Linked DNA regions of Homo sapiens. The protein of the gene in region 1 interacts with the protein of each later gene in a pairwise test. Each region holds a gene or a part of one and is shown in the gene's direction. Other genes may lie near its edges.

Region 1 (7,301 bases):
TCCAGGATCCCCGTGATACCAAAATCTGCAGATGCTCAAGGCCCTTACAGTTGCCATTCTGCATCTGCAGGTTCCACATCTGCTATTGGCTGAATCTGTGGGTTTGAAACCTGAAGATACAGGGGGTCTGCTGTCTGTACATTATTAAACCCAAGGGACTGGAATGTAAATTCCATATACATATTTGTGACTAAAAAGATCTCACTAAGAAAAATAGTCAGAGGCTGGGCGCGGTGGCTCACACCTGTAATCCCAGCATTTTGGGAGGCCGAGGTGGGTGGACCACCTAGGTCAGGAGTTCGAGACCAGCCTGGCCAACATGGTGAAACCCCCTCTCTGCTAAAAATACAAAAATTAGCCGGGCGCAGTGGCATGTGCCTGTAATTCCAGCTACCCCGGAGGCTGATACAGGAGAATCGCTGGAACCCAGGAGGCAGAGGCTACAGTGAGCCAAGATCGCCCCACTGCACTCCAGCCTAGGTGACAGAGCAAAAAAAAATAAAATAAAATAACCAGAGATGAGGAAAACATACTACCTAGTGTAGTATGTTATGAGTACATGCTTTTGAGCCTGGGCAACTTTATACAACACTGTGTTCAAAAGCGATGATTAAATGAAGTACATGGCTTAGCAAGTGATCAATAAACTATAGCAATTTTTCTTGTAGGGCTCAATTTCCTCATTTTTAAAAATAAGAAAGATTCTCTTCTGGGTTTGTATTGATGAAAGGTGAATAGAAAAATATTTTATTTTTAAAATATTTTTTAAAATAGAAATGGCATCTCACTATATTGCCAAGGCTGGTCTGGAACTTCTGGGCTCAAGTGAGTCTCCCATCTTGGCCTCCCAACATGCTGGGATTACAGGTGTGAGCCACCATGCCTGACCTAGAAAAATAAAATAAAATAAAAATAAATTTGGGGTCTGGGCACGGTGGCTCACACCTCTACTACCAACACTTTGGGAGGCCAAGGCGAGTAGATCGCCTGAGCTCAGCAGCTGGATACCAGCTTGGGCAACATGCTGGTCTCTACAAAACGCCAACTCTACCAAAAATACATAAAATAGCTGGGCATGGTGGAATATGTCTGTGGTCCCAGCTACTTGGGAGGCTGAGGCAGGAGGAAAAAGGGAGGGGAGGGGAAGGGAGAGGAGGGAAAAGGGAAGGGAAAAGGGAACAGAAGGGGGAAGGGAGGGGAAAAGGGAAAGGAAAGGAAGGGGAGGGAAGGATGAAGGAAAGAAAAGAAAGAGAAAGAAAGAAAAGAAAGGAAAGAAAGAAAAAGAAAAGAGAAAAGAAAAGAATTTGGCCGGGAACAGTGGCTCAGGCCCATAATCCCAGTACTTTGGGAGGCCAAGGCAGACAGATTGGTTGAGCTCAGGAGTTTGAGACCAGCCTTGGCAACATAGCAAAACCCTGTCTCTACAAAAAATAACACTACTTAGCCAATGTGGTGGTGTACCTGTAGTCCCAGCTACTTTGGGGGCTGAGGTGGGAGGATCACTTGATCCCAGGAGGTTGAGTAAGCCGAGATGATGCCACTGTACTTCAGCTTGGGTGACAAAGTGAGACCCTGTCTCAAATAAATAAATAAATAAATGTAAGAAGGTAGTATAGTGTAGTGGTTAAGAGTGTTAATGGCTGGGTGCACTGGCTCACACCTGTAATCCCAACACTTTGGAGGCTGAGGTGGAAGGATTGCTTGGGCCCAGGAGTTCCAGACAGGCCTGGGCAACATAGCCAGAATCCACTTATTTATTAAAAAAAAAAAAAAAAAAAGAGTGTAAATACCAGTTAATACCAGAAGAAATGGGTTCTTATAGCTGTTCCACTGCTTTTAGCTGTGTGACCTTGGGCAGAATATTTAATCTCTCTGACCCTGATTATTTTTATCTGTACAATAGAGATATTACAGTCTGCCATTAACATCCTGTTTTGTAATTTACATTAGCCACTTGATGTGTAGTGTATTCTTACTGAAAAATCTGTTTTGACAACTTTTGTTTTGGTTCAGGTTTTGGAGGCTAGAGATGGAGAACAGAATTCTTTCGATTTATTTTGCATAACTAAACAGAAAACATGGATTAAGATTTGGAATAAGTTACAGGGAGGAGGGCTCATACGGTTTGTCTTTTGAATTTAAGAAGACCCTAAGAATTAGTTGAAGATTGTTTTAAGGAATTCTACTATATAAAACTAAAAACAGACATAAGGCCTAAAGTGTGAAAGGAAAATAAATCTTGGGGCCTCCACCTCACTAAGCTAAAGAGAAAAGTCAAGCTGGGAACTGCTTAGGGCCAACCTGCCTCCCATTCTTTAAAAAGTCACCCCTCTGCTCACTGAGATAAACGCATATCTGACTGCCTCCTTTGGAGAGGCTAATCAGAAACTCAAAGGAATGCAACCATTTGTCTCTTATCTATCTATGCCCTGGAAGCTCCCTCCCCACTCAGAGTCTTCCTGCCTTTGCTTTGAGTTGTCCAGTCTTTCCAGAATGAACCAATGTTCATCTTACATATATTGATTGATGTCTCATTTCTCCCTAGAATGTATAAAACCAAACCGTGCTCTGATCACCTTGGGCACATGTCTACAAGACCTCCTGAGGCTATGTCATGGACGCGTGTCCTCAACTTTGGCAAAATTAACTTTCTAAATTAACTGAGGCCTGTCTCATATTTTGGGGGTTCACAAAAGGATACAAGAAGGTCTTGTCACTTAGCAAGCTTCCAAAATGCAATTTTGAGTTATTCAACTGCTAAGCAACTCTTTACATGTATCTCCAATGCAAAGGAGGGTACTTCTGAGTAAAGAAGTTTTTGGGGTTTTTTTGTTGTTGTTGTTTGTTTTTTTAAGACAGTCTCGCTCTGTCGCCCAGGCTGGAGTGCAGGGGCGCGATCTCCGCTCACTGCAACCTCCGCCTCCCGGGTTCACGCCATTCTTCTGCCTCAGCCTCCGGAGTAGCTGGGAGTATAGGCACCCGCCACCACGCCCGGTTAATTTATTCTATTTTTAGTAGAGACTGGGTTTCACCGTGTTAGCCAGGATGGTCTCGATCTCCTGACCTCGTAATCTGCCCGCCTCGGCCTCCCAAAGTGCTGGGATTACAGGCATGAGCCACTATGCCCGGCCAGAAGTTTTTGCTTTTAATTGCCCAGGGCCACTCCTAAGAAATAACAGTCTCTGAAGGGTAGATAAGGTAGTGCTACCAAGAGAAGCGTTACTCAGCAAGCCTTCAAAAATATAAAAATAACTTACTGTTTCTGAAAGTTTGCAAGTTTTTCTTATTCAACCCCATCCTATGGAAATATACCAGTTGGAATAAGCAACTACAGAACCACATAGGACGGCACTACTAGAAAAATAGATTAAATCTTTATCCTGGCAATGAGTCTAATACATTTATCATTGCTGTGAATTTTAAAAGGTGTAGCAGGCCGGGCGCGGTGAGTCACCGCGCCAGGCCCGATCATAAACACTTTTAAAGTGAAGAGGCTTTCCGCTTCCTCAACATAAGGAGTAAATCTTTAATGCTGCTTCTAGGAAAAAAAGTACAAGAAAAGCAAGACTTCCTCCTTGCCTTCTCTTTAAAAAGCAACAGCCGATGAACACGTGTTGGAGCGCTCTCGCCTTGACAGAATTAGAGATCTTCAGAATCACTTGGCGTGGTGGTCGAAGCGTCTAGCCCTAGCTCATTAGGGTGCCACAGTTTCTCGGCCCACAAGTCAGCTTTTAACCACTTTTCTCCGCAAAAGACCGGACCGGTCTTCATGCGTCAACTAAAGCAAGCGTCTGGTCCCGTGTGTGAAACGTGTAAGTTCATGGCATCAGGGAATACCCATCGCGCGTACCGTAATAGAAGAGGGCGAGGTTCCTCACCTAACCCATAATGCTCAGCTCGCCTTTCCGGAAGCAAGGACTATCACCCCGACAATACCTTCATCCGGGCGGAAGCGTCTCACCCTGAGTCTGATTTGGCAGTGACGAAGCGAGGTATTGTGGGACTTTGTCCGTCTCCCAGTACGCATGTGCCTCAGCCGGCCTCTCCCGGCTCCTGGGGCCACGTCCGGGCGGTGGCGCCGTCGAGAGATGCTCGTCAGCGAAACTGGCCAATCCCCTGCAGGCGCAAGCGCAGTGGCTCGGGCGCACCGGAAGCGCAGGGGGATGGGGCGGCGGTGACGCGATTCTGTCCGCGTTGGAGGGGCCGGGCCGCTGCTGGAGTCGCCGCGGCCGCCGCGTGACGTGGCACAGCCAGAGCCTAAAGGCTAGAGCCGGAGCTGCCGCGCCAGTCGCCTAGCAGGTCCTCTACCGGCTTATTCCTGTGCCGGATCTTCATCGGCACAGGGGCCACTGAGACGTTTCTGCCTCCCTCTTTCTTCCTCCGCTCTTTCTCTTCCCTCTCGTTTAGTTTGCCTGGGAGCTTGAAAGGAGAAAGCACGGGGTCGCCCCAAACCCCTTCTGCTTCTGCCCATCACAAGTGCCACTACCGCCATGGGCCTCACTATCTCCTCCCTCTTCTCCCGACTATTTGGCAAGAAGCAGATGCGCATTTTGATGGGTGAGTGAGGGGCTGCGAGTCAGGCGGGACCTGGGAAAGGCAGGGTCTCCACAATTGGGGTGGCCTCTGGGCCTGTTTTTTTCCTCCGCCCGCTGTGGTGGGGGAGGGGCGCCGGGTCGGGGGTCGGAAGGAATTCTTAAGGGGGAACAATGGAGCGGAGGGTGAGCGATCCCCCCCGCCCCCGATCTGTCGCCAGACGAGACAGGGACAGGGCTTCGGGCAAGATTTCTTTCTGGACTCGGCTTTTTCTCCTTGATCTTATTGAAAGCTGGACAACATTGGGCAGAGATGTGGGGAAAGCCAACTCTGGGAAGCAAACACTTGGCGAGGCCCTTTCTGGGGGTGCGATCTGCATACCTTCTTGCCCGGGTGTGGACAGCGGTCAGGAGGGAGGCAGAGCAACTCCAGCCTTTTCCCTCCCCTTCTGCGTTTCGTGTACAGTCCCTGCATACTCCATTGGTATGTAAGCCAGCGGCCACCCGGAGCCTGGAGCCGCCCGGGGCAGGAAGTTGCGGTGGCCAGGGAGCACCCAAGGTTTCCGAAGAGTCTGGAGTCCTTCAGCGCTCACTTTGCTAAACTTGGCCTTGCGCTGGATTCCGTTTCAAGTTTTTCGCTCCTTGTTAATCTCATTCTCCGAAAACTGAGCTTATCTTCTATTTCTTTGACTATTTTCAAAAACTTTAAATGTGTTTGGTTTATTCTCCTAGGTTTTTAAGCTTATTTTTAGGCGGTCTAAGGTCTAATGCAAAAAAATTTTAGAAACGAATTTTTAAAAAATACCTGATAAATTTTCAAGTAACTGAACATCATGACGCTGAATTTTATGGTAGTCTTGTTAAATAGTAACTACAATTTTTTTAAAATTTCTTTTTAGAAAGTTGACTTTTTAAAAACTACTTTTTAGGGGGCGTGTTTTTGCTCAGCTGAGGGAGAAGGGCTGTCAGTTGGCTGAAGTAAGCAACCGCTCCCGGTTACTGTAAGCAGTCTACATCACAGCTGAGCTCCATGGACTAGAATAACGCTGAAAGAAGCCCCTCTAACTTTGAACGTTGAAACTTGTTGGTTCATTAGCTTGTTTTCTACCGGAGGAGGTTTTATTTTTCTCTTCCTTTTTTTTTTTTGCAGACGGAGTTTTGCTCTTGTCACCCAGGCTGGAGTGCAGTGGCGCAATCTCGGCTCACTGCAACCTCCACCTCCCGGGTTCAAGAGATTCTCCTGCCTCAGCCTCCCGAGTAGCTGGGATTACAGGCATGCAACACCACGCCTGGCTAATTTTTTGTATTATTAGTAGAGACGGGGGTTTCACCACGTTGGCCAGTCTGGTCTCGAACTCCTCACCTCAGGTGATCCACCCACCCAGGCTTCCCAGAGTGCTGGGATTACAGGCGTGAGCCACCGCGCCCGGCCGGAGGTTTTATTTTAGAGCTGTACTACCATCAAAACTTGCAAACACAAGCTTCTGTAATATTTCAAGGTATATAAAGAGTAACAGTATATACATTGGCTCATGTTTATTTTCCTCTTAGCGTACTTACACTTTGTGAATCAATTGTTTATGAGTCATTCATAAAGTATTTTTTCTTTCAAAGTTTCTTAGATTTCCTTTGTCAAGAGGACAGAATTATTTTAGGAGGGCAAGCATATTTAAGTTTTCAGTGGCTGAAAGTTGGCAGTCTGAAAAAGGATCGGAAGTTAATGGGAGGACTTCGGACTGTGATAAATGAATTTCCAGTCTGTTCGTTAAAGAGATTTAACAATATATGGTTATGTTCCAGAACACATAGTATATTGGTCTTTTTACTTAAGATTTATTGTAAATGAATTGCTATTTTTCAATTCCTTAGTCTTTTGTGATTGATGAAAGTATCAGAGGGGCAAGGAATATAGAAGTATGCTACCAGCATTTTCATATATTTACTATATTGGGAGGCATTTCCCTCCACCCCAAAAAATGATTCGAAGAAAATGGGAGAGAAAAAATATTTAAGTTTCTGCATTTGTGTGGAGGATTTAGGAGTTACTTGTTTTTAATGTTTTATTACTCAGGCATGCTATCGTTTTGCACTTTAATTTTGGGATAATCAGTTTTCCTTGACTAAAAAACACTTCAGTCACAAGATCGACATTTATGGTAACTCATCAAAGGAAGTATCAACGTACGAGGGAGATATGTGCATGAACAGGGAAAAAGGTGGTTTGGAAGTTTGATAATTCTTACATTTTTCTGTCTGGCTTTATGAGTGACTGACAGCAAAAATAATAGATCACTTTTAAAGTGTCTGCCCCATTCAACTGTTGGAATTATTAATGTTTTACATTAGTGTGCTTCGTTTTTCTTTATAAAGCTTAGATAAGATTCATGCCCTCCTGAGTCAGTGTTTTATTCAGACTTTACCATTTTAAAGTATAAAGGAGATAGCAGTTAGCTGATGTGTCAGGTTTGCCAAACTACTATGGAGAAGTTTTAAATTTAATTCGTACACCTGCTGTTCTTCAAAAGTTCAAGTAACTTTAAAAGATATTGGAAGTTAGCTTGTAGTTAACTGTAATTAAAAAACCAACACAGTGTATCAAATTTAACATCATCTGAACTATTGATTGACAGAAATTATGTACTAGTTATAAGGGTAAGTTATGCAAGTGATGATATTGCCCATACTGCTCGAGTTAGGAAGCAATAGCTTCTGGCCAGGTGTGGTGGCTCACGCCTATTATCCCAGCACTTTGGGAGGCCAGGTTGGGAG
Region 2 (7,024 bases), on another chromosome or scaffold:
AGACTCACTACAAATGAAAATGACAGTATTTGTTGCCAGTGATAAAATTCAAGCTTTCACACAAAAATTAGAATTTTGGAAAACTTTTACTAGCTTTTGTGAGGTTGGAAGCTTTTTAAAAGACTTTTTTTGGTGAGATTTTCTTCAATACCTAAAGACTTTTAATGAATATGATTTTTTGATATTGCATGTTAAATGTGTGAACATTTAGAAGATGTAAATAACTCACTGAACTGGTATTCTCCAGATGACCAATGCATGAGTAAAACATCCATTTGAAGTGCAAGATAGAGCAATAGATTTTAATGTAACCAAGGAAGAAAAGAGGCATCATATCAATCATATTCCTTGATACGATTTCAGATTTCATGTTGCAACTACCCTTTAAGAGTTGTTGTTCTAGTGTAATATCAGAGAATGATATCCATAATTCTCCAAAAAGGCTATTAAAATACTCCTTTCTTTTCCAGTGTACATATTTGTGTGAGGCCAGAGTTTCTTTTTGTACTTCAGCCACAACTGTTTGAATGCATAAGCAGATAGAAGAATTCAGCTGTTTGGGGGGAAAAATATAGTTATTTTTCATTAAAACATGTTATTTATGTTAACAAGTAATGAGTTTGTTACTTTTAAAAAGAAGTAATATTTTAAAAACCTATTCTTTTTAATTTATGATGTGGTATATGTCAATAGATAAAATCCACATAAACCAAAGCTCTTTGGGATTCTCAGTAATTTTAAAAAGTGTGAAGGGATCCTGAGACCAAACCATTTGAGAACTACTGTTCTGCGGTATAACTATGAGAATAGTGGGTTGGAGGACAAGGTTATTGGAAATGACAAAGTTAAGGAACTGAGAGTTGCAGAAAAAGGAAGCCAGTTAAGTGTTAAAATCTTTAAGGAATGAACTACGTTATGGTAAGTCAAGGCATAGGAAGCCTTCAGAAATGAGTGGATCTGCAAGGTCACAGTGTATTGGAAAGTCACTGGCCTGGAAATCTCTTGATATACTTGTAATGGTAAAGTTGCTGTAATGAAAAAACCCAACAGTGATGTAGATTAAAGAGTAAAGGTTTTATTTCTTTCCATTTAACAATTCCAAGGCGAGTGATGCAGGTTGGTGATGAGGCTTTGCTCCACATGGTCACTCCAGGGATGAGATTTTTCTGTTGTATCATTTTGTCATGTTTTAGGGCATGTGGCCATCTGTCTGATATAGCTGAACAATTGTGCCCAGGAAGGAGAGGATAGATTTTGGTGGACAACTGGCAGTCTTTGCCGTGTTTGAAAACAAGGGCTGTCTCTTACATTTGTTGCATTTTGTGCAATATTAGATATGAGGTTGATGATTAATAAAAGCTAGTAAAATAAGAATATAATCTTTATTATTTTTAATGTAAATGAATTTATCTGGAAATGTCTAAGAAGAGGTTGCCTGTTTGCTGTTTAGGCTCAGAATGAAATTGGGGTGTTATATTAGTCTGTTTTCACACTGCTGATAAAGACATACCCAAGACTGGGAAGAAAAAGAGGTTTAATTGGACTTACAGTTCCACATGGCTAGGGAGGCCTGAGAATCATGGCGGGAGACAAAAGGCACTTCTTACATGGTGGTGGCAATAGAAAATGAGGAAGAAGCAAAAGTGGAAACTCCTGATAAACCCATCAGATCTCATGAGATTTTATTCATTATCACGAGAATGGCACGGGAGAGTCTGGCCCCCATGATTCAGTTACCTCCTTCTAAGTCCCTCCCACAACACGTGGGAATTCTGGGAGATACATTTCAAGTTGAGATTTGGGTGGGAACACAGCCAAAGCATATCAGGTGTTGTGGGATTAGTGTTTCAATCTAGGGATTTCCTTCATAATTCTTTTGTTTTAAAGTTGTGTTCAACTTCATACAGACGTAGTGATGTTGAAGGGAAGAATTAACATAAAATATGCCAAGAAACTAGTGAAATGTTATGTTTAGGATCAGTTTAGCAACTGATCTATTGGTTGTAATCTTTCAGTTCCATCCAGGAGGAGGAGGAAGAAATTTTCTTTTTGTATTGCACACTTAGTTTCTTTTGCTTCTTACTATATCTCTTTTTTCTCCGTGGGTGTTAGGCACCTTGCTGTGACAAGCTTTATACTTGCCGCTTGTGTCATGATAACAATGAAGATCATCAACTAGATCGCTTTAAAGTGAAGGAAGTGCAGTGCATAAACTGTGAAAAAATTCAACATGTAAGATTTTATGACATTTCTATTTTCTTTTTAAAAGCTGTATTAAGGTGGTTTGAAAAAATTTAATCAAAAGTATCATAAATAAGATTTCTTTAACTTCTAGAATAAGCAATATCTTTGGTTTAGGTGTTTCAAAACTTATAAAAATAAACTGCATATAGTTGAACATAAGTTCTAGATATTCAAATGGTAACTCAAAATGTTTAGTTTATTGCAGTTTTTAATTATGTTTCTTTTTTAGGCCCAACAGACTTGTGAAGAATGTAGCACATTGTTTGGAGAATATTATTGCGATATATGCCATTTGTTTGACAAAGATAAGAAGCAGTATCACTGTGAAAACTGTGGAATTTGTAGGTACTGTATGTAAAGTGTTCTTATCTAATTGCTTCTAATGTATATGCAATAATAGTTTTTAAAATCAACTTTATTAAGGTGTAATTTACATCTGATAAGATACATTCATTTTAAGTGTCCAATTAAGTGAGTTTTGATAAATACCGGTATCTCTTTTACTATCAGCACAATCAAGCTATAGAACATATCCATTCTAAAAAGTTTATTCATAATTTGTTAATAATTTAATTTACCCATCAATTATTGTATAACTATTTAGAATTTTACCTTTGGATTATAAAATATGTTTTATATAAAGTGTTTTATGGGCAACTGAGGTAGAGAATTGGGATAAATTTTTCCTTTGTAAAAATTAGTATTTAAAAAATTATCAAGAAATACAGGTGATTTTATAAAAATTGGAAAAAACAGAAAAGTAGAAATAATAAAAATAAAATAACCAGAGCCTAACCACAGACAAGCTACTGTTGACATGTCGGTGTATAAGGAATTATTTTCTTTCTTAAAAATCTCGAGTATTTTAGATGTATATTAAAGCATGTATGTAAAGTGTGTCTAAAGTACAGTACAGTGAATAAGCCACCGAGTTTAGGAAAGGAATGTTACCAATACTGTCAAAGCCCAAGGTGTTCCGTGTTCAGTCCTTTCTTCTTGTCCCTGCTGGAGGTAATCACTGTCTTGAATATTTTAAATCACTTTCTTGCTTTTTTTTTGTTTTTTTTGTTTTTTTAAAATATAGTTTGTTTTTAAGGAAGGATAACCAACCTACCAAAAGATAACAGAAATTATAAGCAAATGATTTTATGAATTTTAACAAATGAACATGCCTTTGTAACCACTACCCAGATCAAGAAACACAACATTCATAGCACCTTCATAGCTTCCTGTGTGCCCCCTCCAAATTAATACACTTCCCCAAAGGTAACCAGTATGCTGACTTTTGGAAGTTTTTAATGAATGGAATCATATAGTATATGCTCTTTTGTGTTTTGTTTTGTATGTTTTAAGGCCATGTCTTTCAGCGGTCACATACTTAAAATTATTACATTTTCCTGTATGATTGACCCATTTATTATTATATAATGTGTCTTTTTATCTTTAGTAATGTTTCCTGCCCTAGGCTCTACTGTATCTATATCAGCTTTCTTTCGATGAGTTTTTGCATGTATATCCTTTTCCATTTAGACATTTTTGTATACTTACATTTAAGTCATGTGTCTTGTAAAACAGCATATAGTTGAATTTTAATTTTTCAATCCAGTTTGATAAAACTGTCTTTTAATTGGAGTATATAGTTCGTTTTTTATTAAGGTAGTTAGGATATGTTCGTGTTTCAATCTACAGTTTTGGTAGTTTCTATTGCCTTAGTATTTGTCTTTTTTCCTCTCCTTTCTTGTCTTCTTTGGATTAATCTGTTGCTTTCCTATTTGCTTTTATTCTCTATAGGCTTGTTAGTTATACATTTTTCAATTATTTTCTTAGTGGTTATCCTAGAAATTATAACATACATCATTGGCTTACTAGAATAATATGTTTATCACTTCTTGGACAATATTAGGACCTTAAACACTAAGAGTCTTTATATGCTATTGTTGTTATATATTTACCGTTTCTATTGCCCTTCTTTCCTGTAGGTCTCCAGCATTATCTTTGGAGTTACTTTTCTTCTGCTTAAAGAATTGTCTTTAGTGTTTCTTTTAGTGAGGTCCTGCTGATGATACATTCTCTCAGTTTTTTTTGTCTCTGAAAAATGTCTTTTTTTTGCCTCCATTTTTGAATATTTTTGCTGGGTGTAGAATTCTAAGTTTACAGGTATTGGTTCCCCTGACCTCCCAACACTTTAAAGATATTCTGATTCCATGGTTTCTGTTTAAAAATATCATTTCTCAGGATTATTATTGCTTCTTTGAAGTTAAAATGTCTTTTATCCTCCTCTCGCTGTTTTTTAAGTCATTGGTTGTTAGTATTTTTTCCGTGTGTCCAGGTTTGATTGAGTGTAATATTTATCTGGCTTGGGGTTTGTAGCATTTGTTGAATCTGTGGCTTGATGTCTTCTGTCAATTTTGAAATATTTTTGGCCAGTTTCTCTTCAGATAATGTTTCTGTACCGTTTTCCCACCTCTTCTGAGACTCCATCCCATAGATCTTTTTACTACATCCCATGTCTCTTTTTTTTTTTCCTGTATTTCTCCTACTTTGATTTTCTTTATGCTTAAATTGGATACTTTCCACAGATTAACTTCCAGGTCTCTCTTCTGCTGCATTGAATCTGCTTTTAAGCCTACCAAGTTATCTATTTATTTAAGTTATAAAATTTATATTTTATCTTCATTCTTGTTATTTTCTAGTTGTCAGGTGAAATTCTTTACCTTTTTTTTCTTTGAATGTATTGATCACAGATGATTTAAAGGACTGTGCCTAATAACTCCAATATCTTGATTATCTATGGGTAAATTTTGTTTTCTGTTTTTTCTCCCTTGGTGTTTGGTTCTGCCTTTTGACATGCTTGATTTTTTTTTTTAGTTGATTGTTGGACATAATATGTAAAAATTTATTAAGCTCTCGATGCTATTTTTTTTTCAGAGAGAATTTAATTTTCTTTCAGAAGGCAGTTAATGTAGGGATGGATAACCTTAATCCAATTTAGCATTGATATGATTAGAGACTAATTTTTGTTTTTTTTTTTTTTGTATGTCCTGTTCTATTTTTTTTTTTTCCTCCCTTTATTCTTATGCTCCTAGGACATAGTCCCTTGGAGATCTTGACTTAAAGCTAGGGTTGTTTACCAGGCCCATCTCTTTCGTGGTGGAATCTGGACTCCAAATTTTGGCCCCCTAGCATAGGAGTACTTTCAGAGGGTTTACTTAGTTTCTTAGGCTCTTACCTGTTGCTCTCTGTTTAGTTTCTTAGCTTGTCACAGCACAGTTTAGGGTCTAAAAATCTCCCAAGGAAGAAAGAAGTAGAGACTATTGACTTTGCCTCAGTATATTTGCTTTCTCTCTGAGATCTTTGCCCTTCAAGCACTCAGTTGCTCTTTACTACTTTTAAACAGCTTGTTTGTTTTCTTTAAATTGAGTTTTTCTAGTTCTCAGTAGGAGTTTTAGTCCTATAGAAGCTATTTCGTCATTGTGGAAGTAGAAGTTACAATATATGTTTCATTTTGCTTATTTTAAAAATCATATATATGGCCTTTTTTTCTTTTTGTTTTTTTACTGAGCTCTGTTTCTAAGATTCATCCTATTTGATTAACTCTAATTCATTTTCACTTTTGTAGTGTTATTTTGTATATCATATCTACACATAGCTTCTAATTACCACACACAACCAAGAAAATCATACCCTCTTTTATTGGTTGATTTATTGACATTCAAGTTATTGTTACTGCAAAGTACACATCTCATGCTACATGGTAAATATTAAACTTCATGAGATCATGGTATTTTCATATTTTAAATTTCTATACCTGGGAGTGCCTTATATCAGGGTCCCCAGTGCTTGGGGTGCGGATTCTGGTGCATGGCCTGTTAGGAACTGAGCTGCGCCCAGTGCAGGGTGAGTGGTGGGTGATCGACCATTACTGTCTGAGCTCTGCCTCCTGTCACATCAGTAGTAGCATTAGATTCTCATAGGAGCACAAACCCTATTGTGAACTGTGCATTCAAGGGATCTAGGTTGTGTACTCCTTATGAGAATCTAATACCTGATTATCTGAGGTGGAACAGTTTCATCCCGAAACCATCCCCCAACCTCGGTCCATGGAAAAATTGTCTTCCATGAAACCAGTCCCTGGTGCCAGAAAGGTTGGTGACCGCTGCCGTATATACAGTAGGTGCACAGTAATGTGTAGGCAGTATATCTTTGGCAGTGTTTTCAGTATTATGATAACCCTGAATATACTAGAAAAATTAGTCATCGCCATTTACCATTTAAGTATAATGGATTCTTTTTACTTTAAAAAATATTTTAAAGCCCTTTTGTGAATAATGTGCAGACGAAAGAATAAAGGATAGTGAAAATTAACTTCACTGGAAATTTTACTAAGAATTTGAACACTGCAAACCCAAATTTTAATTCCATGTATTCCAAGTTGAAGATAATGTGTGCTCAAATATGTCAGTGTCCTCTGTAACTGCTTTTGACCCTTGAACAATGTTGGGGGTTAAGGGCACCAAGTGCCAGCTCAGTTGAAAATCTGAGTATAACTTTCAACTCCCCACAACTTAACTACTAATAGCCTGCTACTGACTGGAAGTCTTATCAATAACACAAATAGCCAATTAATACATATTTTGTATGTTATATGTATTATATACTATATTCTTAGGATAAACTAGAGAAAAATATTAGGACAATCATAAGGAGAAAATATGTTAACTGTTCATTAAGTGGAAATGGATCATCATAAAGGTCTTCATCCTTCTTCATGTTGAGTAGG
Region 3 (7,956 bases), on another chromosome or scaffold:
TCACCAGATCTTGCTCTATCCTCAATCAGCCATGTGGTTTGGGGAGGATTGACCCAGCTCCAGGACTGGGAGCTGATTGGTTTAAGTTAGTCAGTGTAACCCAAGCCCCTGGCCATGGAGTATGGTTCAGAGAATGGGATTACAACCATTTTTAAAAGTCAATATGTTCCCATGACATTATTTACTCAAAAACTTCATTTTCAGAGGTAGAATTACCATATGGGGCACCAGAATGTCTTCCAATGTATCAGATAAACACATAGTACAAAATTCTGGTTGGACTCATTAAAGGGCACAGTGGGAGAAAAAGAGAAGGAGCCTGACCTTGTTTGCAGAATAAAAAAGAAAAGAAGGGCATTATTTCTCTGGACAGATTTCATGCCCAGAGAAAAAGCTGGTGAAATAAGCATCTGTATATACAAGCAAATTTATTGAAGTTTATGATACATACATGTCATAATTGTGTATTTCTTTCATACACTTTAAATCCTGTGACCAAAAAGGCTATACAATATGTTAGGAATTATGCTGGATTATTAAATATTAGCAGAACTGAAATCCTCAAGAGAAACCAGATTACCGAAGGTTGTTCTATGCTTGTCTTACATACAACCTCAGCTCATAAACTCAAGGACTGATACAGAAAGAGGGTAATCACTAAAGAACTTGAAATCAAGGAAAAGTATCAACTTATGTCAGAAGAAGGATGTCTAATTTAAGCTATCCAGAACCATATCAAAAGCTGGAAGATATGGTCACACTCTTGCAGAGTTTGAATGGATGTAGTGAATCATGGAATCTTCAAGTCTTTGTTGATAAAAATAACCCTAAATGAATAAAAGTTTTTGAATCTCTGTCCTTTTACCAAGTGACCAACAGTGCTTGTGACGGTAACATATACAGATACTCCTTGACTTATGGTGGGGTTACATAAGTCAAAAATGCATTTAAGGCCAAGCACAGTGGCTCACGCCTGTAATCCCAGCACTTTGGGAGGCCAGGGCGGGTGGATCACTTGAAGTCAGGAGTTTGAGACCAGCCTGGCCAAAATGGTGAAACCCTGTCTCTACTAAAAATACAAAAATTAGCCGGGCATGGTGGTGGGCGCCTATAGTCCCAGCTACTAGGGAGGCTGAGGCAGGAGAATCGCTTGAACCCGGGAGGCAGAGGTTGCAGTGACCCAAGACTGCACCACTGTACTCCAGCCTGGGCAACAGAGTGAGGCACTGACAAAAAAAAAAATTAATACCCTGATAAGCCCAAAAGTAAGGTCAAAAACTTCTAAGTCGAACCATCATAAGACAGGAACCGTCTGTATTGGTATAGTGTAGGCTGATGGAGTTTGGGACCTCAGAGATTAAACTAAAGGAGATTATCTATGAGCCATTGGGAGACATACTTAAGTTTGCCAATAATATGAGGTTTTATACTGGCATGCACGGAGACTTTAGGTGCACATGCAGTGGTGGTTAAGGCTTTACTTTAAACCCAAGTCACTTGGCACAGTGTCTATACTATTGTTACCTGCTTCAATGGTTGGCAGGTTGCCAGTGTTTTATTTTTAGTGACATGGTCTTGCTCTATCACCCAGGCAGAAATGCTATGGCACAATTATAGCTTACTGCAGCCTCAACCTCCTGGATTAAAGCAATCCTCCCATCTCAGCCTCCCAAGTAGCTAGGACTGCAGGAATTCGCCACCATGCCCACTAATTTTTTTTTTTTTTTGAGAGACGGGGGTCTTACTATGTTGCCCAAGCTGGTCTTGAACTCCCCAGCAATCCTCCCACGTTGGCCTCCCAAAGTGCTGGGATTACAGGCATGAGCCACCATGCCTGGCTGCCAGTATTTTATATACTGCTTCCTGAAACACTTGAATAGCAGTTTCGACCCTGTTAACAGGAGAAGGTGGATTGGAGTGGTGGATTGGAGTGCCTTATAAGAGATCTACTAAAAAGAAAAACATCAATAAAGCAGGCACAGGAAATCTATAAATAGAATAGAACAAGACCAAAGGAGGGATTAAGACATGGATCTACATGCCATATGGATCCACTCATTTCCTACAATGATCTGAAAATTTGGCTTTGAGTTTCCTGCCAGCGAAGGCACAGAGTAACAAGAGCACTTAAGACAATGATTCATGCTATCCAGAAGAAATAGGAATATGTGTTTTTCATGGGGGTGGGGGAGGGAGGGAAATTTCCACATATGAACATTTGGTAAGTAATTAGTTTTGGAGGTCTCTAAGCTACCATTATAACTAACAATTATTACCTTTCTTTATATGGCACTGAATACTTTGCAGAGAAATTTCACATAACTTTCTTTACACAAAAATCCTGCGAGGTAAGATTCCAGGATATTATTAAAGCAATAATGTAACCCTTATTCATGCATCTAAGAACCTAGTCTAACTGGAAAGGCAACACAAAAAGTAGAAAATAAGCAGAAAGATCTCTGAGATAGCAAACCAAATGGCAATAAGTGTATGCACAGAAAAGAGCCTCTCACTCAGAACCTATATTCTCTTATTTAACCTGAAATTCTAACAGGGTTCATTTCCTTCCTAAAACTGCAGTGGATTAAAAGTAACAAAACAGAAACTATTACAGAGAAGCACTCTGAAAGCCTCCTAGATGCGTACACAGGAGAGCAGAGGCAAGAACTAAAAACAATCAAAAGAGCAGTTAGTGCAAAAACAGAAAACCCTAAACACTCACTAAGTAGGATAAGCTCAGACTCTCTCCGCCCTGGATCCTGACCCTCCACGAATCAGTTCCTCACAAACCACCTCAGCCATCTTTCAGGAACGGAAATGTGATCCTGCTTGCCTGCTCCCAACTCTTGGCAACCCTTCATTGACTTTCCAGGCTCATAAGACAAAATCATTATTTAAAAACGGTCCACAAAGTCTGCCTGCCTCTCCAGTCTCATCTCACTTCGGCCCCACCTGCTTGGGCCTTTTCACATTTCCTTCCCTTTACCTGGAAGTGTCTCAATGCTGCCTCTCCTGGGGGATCTGAAATGTCATTTCCTTAGAAAGCCTTACCTAGTCCCAGAGTCCACATTAGGTTTTCCCGTGCACCTTAGCGCCTTTGCAGTTGAGAATTTATCACAGTTGCACTTAGTCTGATTGTTTTATTTGTTTGTTTGTTTTTTGAGACACCAAGGCTGGAGTGCAGTAGCGCGATCTCGGCTCACTGCAACCTCCGCCTCCCGGTTCAAGCATTCTCGTGCCTCAGCTTCCCGAGTAGCTAGGATTACAGGCGTGCACCAACACGCCCGGCTAATTTTTGTGTTTTTAGTAGAGACAGGGTTTCGCCATGTTGACCAGGCTGATCTCAAACTTTTGGCCTAAAGTGATCTGCTGGACTCAGCCTCCCAAAGTGCTGGGATTACAGGCGTGAGCCACCGCGCCTGGCCAGTCTGATAGTTGAATACCTATTTCCTTCAGCGTACTGTGAGCTCTGGTGGAAAAGGACCATGTCTGGCTCGTACATATGCCAAATAAGTATTCACCGGAAAAAATATGAGTAATGTCACAGGACAAGCAGACATCTTCCTAGTATATAATTTTAAATTTTACTAAAATCTTTTTGAGAAGGTAGCTATTGTTTTATTAAAGCAAAAAAAAATTACAAAGTACAATGCAAAATTCATATGAATTTTAAAGCTAAAACAAGACTTTCAGAATGCTTTAGGCTACACCCCCAGACTTCTCTAGAGACGTGCTTAAAATAATATGGAAACACGGTGTGGTAAAAGATCCATTTCCCAAGGGATCTGGATAACCAGCGCTTATCTTCATTTTACTGGAGAATACATGTGCGGAGAGGGCTTTGCAAACTACAAGGCTTTGTGCATTATAACATTATTATGGAAAAATCTGTGTTTCTAAGAGGGGGAATGATTTAGCTATTGCATTGCCAATTACAGGTGGGGCTGGCGCCAGAGCCCAGGCCTCCCGGGGCCTGTCTAGCCCACAGCTTTTCATTAATGCACAGCACTTGCCACCTGGTCCCTGCCGCAAAGGGTGGCCTCTCGAGTTAGGAGCCATATCTAGGGCGGATGGCCTGTGCTAGGCTCAAAGACACTTAAGTTCCGATCAACCAGAACTGAGGAGCGGGTAGGAAAACCAAGCCGAGCCTTCCTCGGCTTCACAATCCGCAGGCTCTCCGCTGTCCCCGGCGGGACTCGGCAGTTCCCCTGGAGGGCTGCAGCCCGGCTGTCTTCGCTCAGGCCCAAGCCCGCGCGGCTCTCCCCCTGGCGGAGAACTCGCAGGACTGCGACGCATTCCGGAGACGCCGTCAATCTCCGAATTTGAAGCGCAGGCGATATCTAAGGGGCCTGGGAAGCGGGAAAGCTCGGGAGTCACTCCGGAGAGAACACCCTGCAGGAGTCGACGCGGCTGCCTGGCTTCGTGGTCCTGCAGCGTGGCCCGTTGCTTCGCGCAGAGGTTGGCCACAGCTGCTGGCTAGGAAACTGGGGACCACCTGGGTTGCCACCGAGGAGGGTGGAGGCCCCCGTCAGTCCCCTCGGGGATGCAGCTGCATTTTCCCCTCCTTGCGTCCGGCCGGGAGCCAGAGGATGGGGCTGTGGAACCCATTCCGAAAGGCAGGGCGGGCCCTTCGGAACCCGGACGCGAGGGAAGGCGAGAGGCGCGGGTGTGCCGCACGCCCACCGGCGCCGGGGCAGGGGCGCTGCAGCCGGCGGCCCACGGAGGACATCAGCGGTGCCGCCGCCGCCGCCGCGGGCTCGCGGGCCGCGCGCGCACGCGAGTGGGCGAGGGAGGCAGGGGCGCTACTAGCAGGCGGCGTGCGCGCGCGCGCTCCCCCGCGCCCTCCCTCGCAGGCCCGCCCGGCCCCAGCGCGCGTCACGAGGGGCCAGCGAGCTAGCTGGAGGGCGGGAGGGAGGGTGGGGAAAGGGGGTGGGGCCGCGAGACCGGAGGGGTCCGAGCAGCGGCTGCGGAGCCGGAGCTGGGCGAGGGCGGCTGCGGTCCCGGCGGCGGCGGCGGCGGCGGCAGCTGCGGCGGGAGAAGATGGTGGCGCTGGAGGCAGCAGCGGCTGGAGCGGAGCTTTATTCCCAGGCTTGGCACCAGCGCTGTCACTAGCGCCGCCTGCTCCCGCGGGCCCGCGGACCCAGCTGTCAGGCAAGGTACCACAGCCAGGGAGGGGTGGGTGAGAAGGGGTGCCCGGCGCTGATGCGGCCCCCGACGGAGCCCGGGTCCTCGCCAAAGGGCGCCCCCGGACGCGAGAGGGGCTGCCTGGAACAATAGTGCGGAGGAGCGGAGGCAGCAGGCGACATCCAGGAGGCAGTGCCTGGAACCATCAGCTAGCGAGGCGGGGGAAGGCGGCGTTGCGAGCGAGACGCCTGGGGTCCGGTGCCCGCTGAGATGCCGGGCTTCGGGCGCAGCAGGCGGGCCTGATGACAGTCATGGCAGGAGTGAGTGTGTGAGAGTGTGTGTGTAAAAGGTACAGCAGAGGGGATGGGGTGGCGGACGGAGGTGTTGGGGGGTGACATTTCCAGGAATCCCCGCTAGGACCCCCTCATCTCTCGGCTGACTCTCCTGGAGAAAGAATGTGATGATGGAAACGGTGAGGTGGGCAGGATGCACTTGGTGTGTGAAGTGTGGAGGGAGGCAGTGGGATAGGGGCCGGTTTGTAAAATCCTGTATATGTGTGTGTACGCGTGTGGTTGCATCCACGTTCCCCAAACTGCGCCCCAAATCCAGAGATCTGCCGCTGCCCTTACTTGATGTCACCGGCTAAGACTGTGGGACAGTGTTTGTTATTTTGACCCTGCAACTCTGAGCACAGTGTCTGTTCTGCTCCTGCGTGTGGATGGCCCAGTGTAGGGATTCTCGCTTCCCCTTCCTCTGGCCTCATGACATGGGGATGTGGAAGTGAGCATGTTGCTTTGAGGCACATGGCAGGGAAATAGGATAACCGTTACACATTCTGGGCTTGCTAATGTACCTGGTTTTGAAGGGGCCTTCCATCCTGTGATACTACTTCTCTCCTTAGCACCTGTTCCATAAGGGTCTTGTACTCCCTGACTGTGCAGTTTCTATTGTTTTTCTCTTGTCTGACCAGAAGGAGAAGGATGTTGAATGATCAGATTCCTCTTCCTGTCCCCACAACTTTCAATGCTAGCTAGACCTTCTCCTTCCACATTTAAGCACTGAAAACCTTATGGCTAGAGGATGGATGGTCTTTGTGTTGGTTCTTTTAGAATGAACTCTGGAGGTGTATACGTATAGAGAGATGCGGTGGGGCGGGGGGCGGTCTTTTAAAAAGAAGAAAAATATCACACGGAGAAATGTTTGGTGCCCACTTGGTCAGCATCACACAGCCAGGGCGTTTTCCTCAGGAAACAGGATACTTTATTTCTACTGCTGGTGACATCCACTCTCCCAGCTGTCACAATAGCTAGGTGGTGCCGTGTATCATTTGGAAACTGAAATCTCCTGAGACCCACAGCGATGGGGTCCCAGGTCAGTAAAGTCCCTGCTTTCCTACCTGATAGAGCCCACTAGTAGGGAATTTGGAAAAATGTCAGGCTGGCAACAACTCACCCAGTGGGAACAAGGACACAGAAATGCATCCAGAGTCTATGGCTGTTTAATTGTCTCTGCGTGGTAAAGATAGGTGTGTGTAGGTAGGGTTGGGTAGAGGTAGGCAGGGAGATGGCATATTCATGTGTATCCAGGGCAGTGTGATTCCCCCTCACCTATGTTTCTCCTGCGGTATTCATAGGAATGAGTGCACTTTACACTTAATATCTCGACACTTCTTTATTAAAATGTTGTATGACTAGCTTAATCTGCTTAGGACATGTTTTAGTCATAACACCTTAAATTCTACTGCATTGTCGGAATCCAAACTGGCTGCCCGGTTCTCTTCGAAAAGCCCGTAGCAGTCATGGCTACACAAGTAAATATACAACATGTTGGCACCAGAGATTTATTTTTCTTTTTTAAAATTTTTGTTTTGCTTTCTTTTATGGGCAAAGATTGCATGATATCGTTGTGAAAATAATAAAACTAGGGCTATCCACATATGCTTTTTTTTCTTCCCATGTATCTTATTTAATGATATATAGACAAGGTGCTCTTGAAGCTGTCTATGTAAAGTAAATTTCCCCATGTTCTTCAAGTCAAGCCTTCTAAGATTTTAATGTGAGGTTGGTTGTTGGCTGTCATCCAAGATTTAAGGATAGATTTATAAAAATGAATTTTGAATCTTAGTTCTTTACTCTCTTATTTGTTATGCCAAATGTCTTTCTGAGAAAAGTACTTAGGGAATTTAAAAGCCATTCTAAGAGATTTTGGTTTAAAAAAAAGTCATCATCCTTTATATTTGCAAGTAAGACCAGGGATGTAAATGTCTCACAAGAAAGTTTAATAATATGAGGAATTACCAGGTAAATACCCTGTTTAGAGAAAGAGGAATTACACAGCAGCAAAATCGATGACTCAGGAATCAGTTCTTTTCTAATGTAAATGTGATCATTTTTATTTTTATTTGTCTTTTTGAGACAGGATCTTCCTCTGTCGCCCAGGCTGGAGTGCAGTAGTGTGATCATAGCTCACTGCAGCCTCAAACTCCTAGCTCAAGCAATCCTCCTGCCTCAGCCTCCTGAGTAGCTGGGACAATAGGCACATGGCACCACACCCAGATATTTGTTTATTTTTTTCAGAGATAGAGTCTCGCTATGCTGCCCAGGCTGATAGTTTTAAAAATGCAATATCTGGCTTTTCTAAAGATCGGACTGGTATAAGGTTAATGAGACAGCTCTAATAAATGGTGGTACCTTTTGCTGTGGCCTGCAGCAAGCCATTTTTTGTGCATGGATGCCTTTCCTTCACTTAAAGTAGCATCAGTGCTTTTCTCTTCCATTATTGAGCCTCTTAAGGTTTTTTGTTGTTGTTGTTTTGTTTTGTTTTGTTGTTATT

The links.
Region 2: the proteins of ARF4 (region 1) and RCHY1 interact in binary tests that used the Homo sapiens proteins (3 or more experiments, as listed by UniProt).
Region 3: the proteins of ARF4 (region 1) and APBA1 interact in a two-hybrid assay, tested with the Homo sapiens proteins (one study listed by BioGRID).

The regions. Positions count from the first base shown.
Region 1 is NC_000003.12:57,594,330-57,601,630, reverse strand, and holds the start of ARF4 (ADP-ribosylation factor 4), read left to right. Parts: upstream 1-4,286; 5' UTR 4,287-4,490; coding exon 4,491-4,557; intron 4,558-7,301.
Region 2 is NC_000004.12:75,504,385-75,511,408, reverse strand, and holds part of RCHY1 (RING finger and CHY zinc finger domain-containing protein 1), read left to right. Parts: intron 1-2,112; coding exon 2,113-2,232; intron 2,233-2,473; coding exon 2,474-2,589; intron 2,590-7,024. UniProt on the Homo sapiens protein: E3 ubiquitin-protein ligase that mediates ubiquitination of target proteins, including p53/TP53, TP73, HDAC1 and CDKN1B. Mediates ubiquitination and degradation of p53/TP53; preferentially acts on tetrameric p53/TP53.
Region 3 is NC_000009.12:69,669,353-69,677,308, reverse strand, and holds the start of APBA1 (amyloid-beta A4 precursor protein-binding family A member 1), read left to right. Parts: upstream 1-4,937; 5' UTR 4,938-5,156; intron 5,157-7,956. UniProt on the Homo sapiens protein: Putative function in synaptic vesicle exocytosis by binding to Munc18-1, an essential component of the synaptic vesicle exocytotic machinery. May modulate processing of the amyloid-beta precursor protein (APP) and hence formation of APP-beta.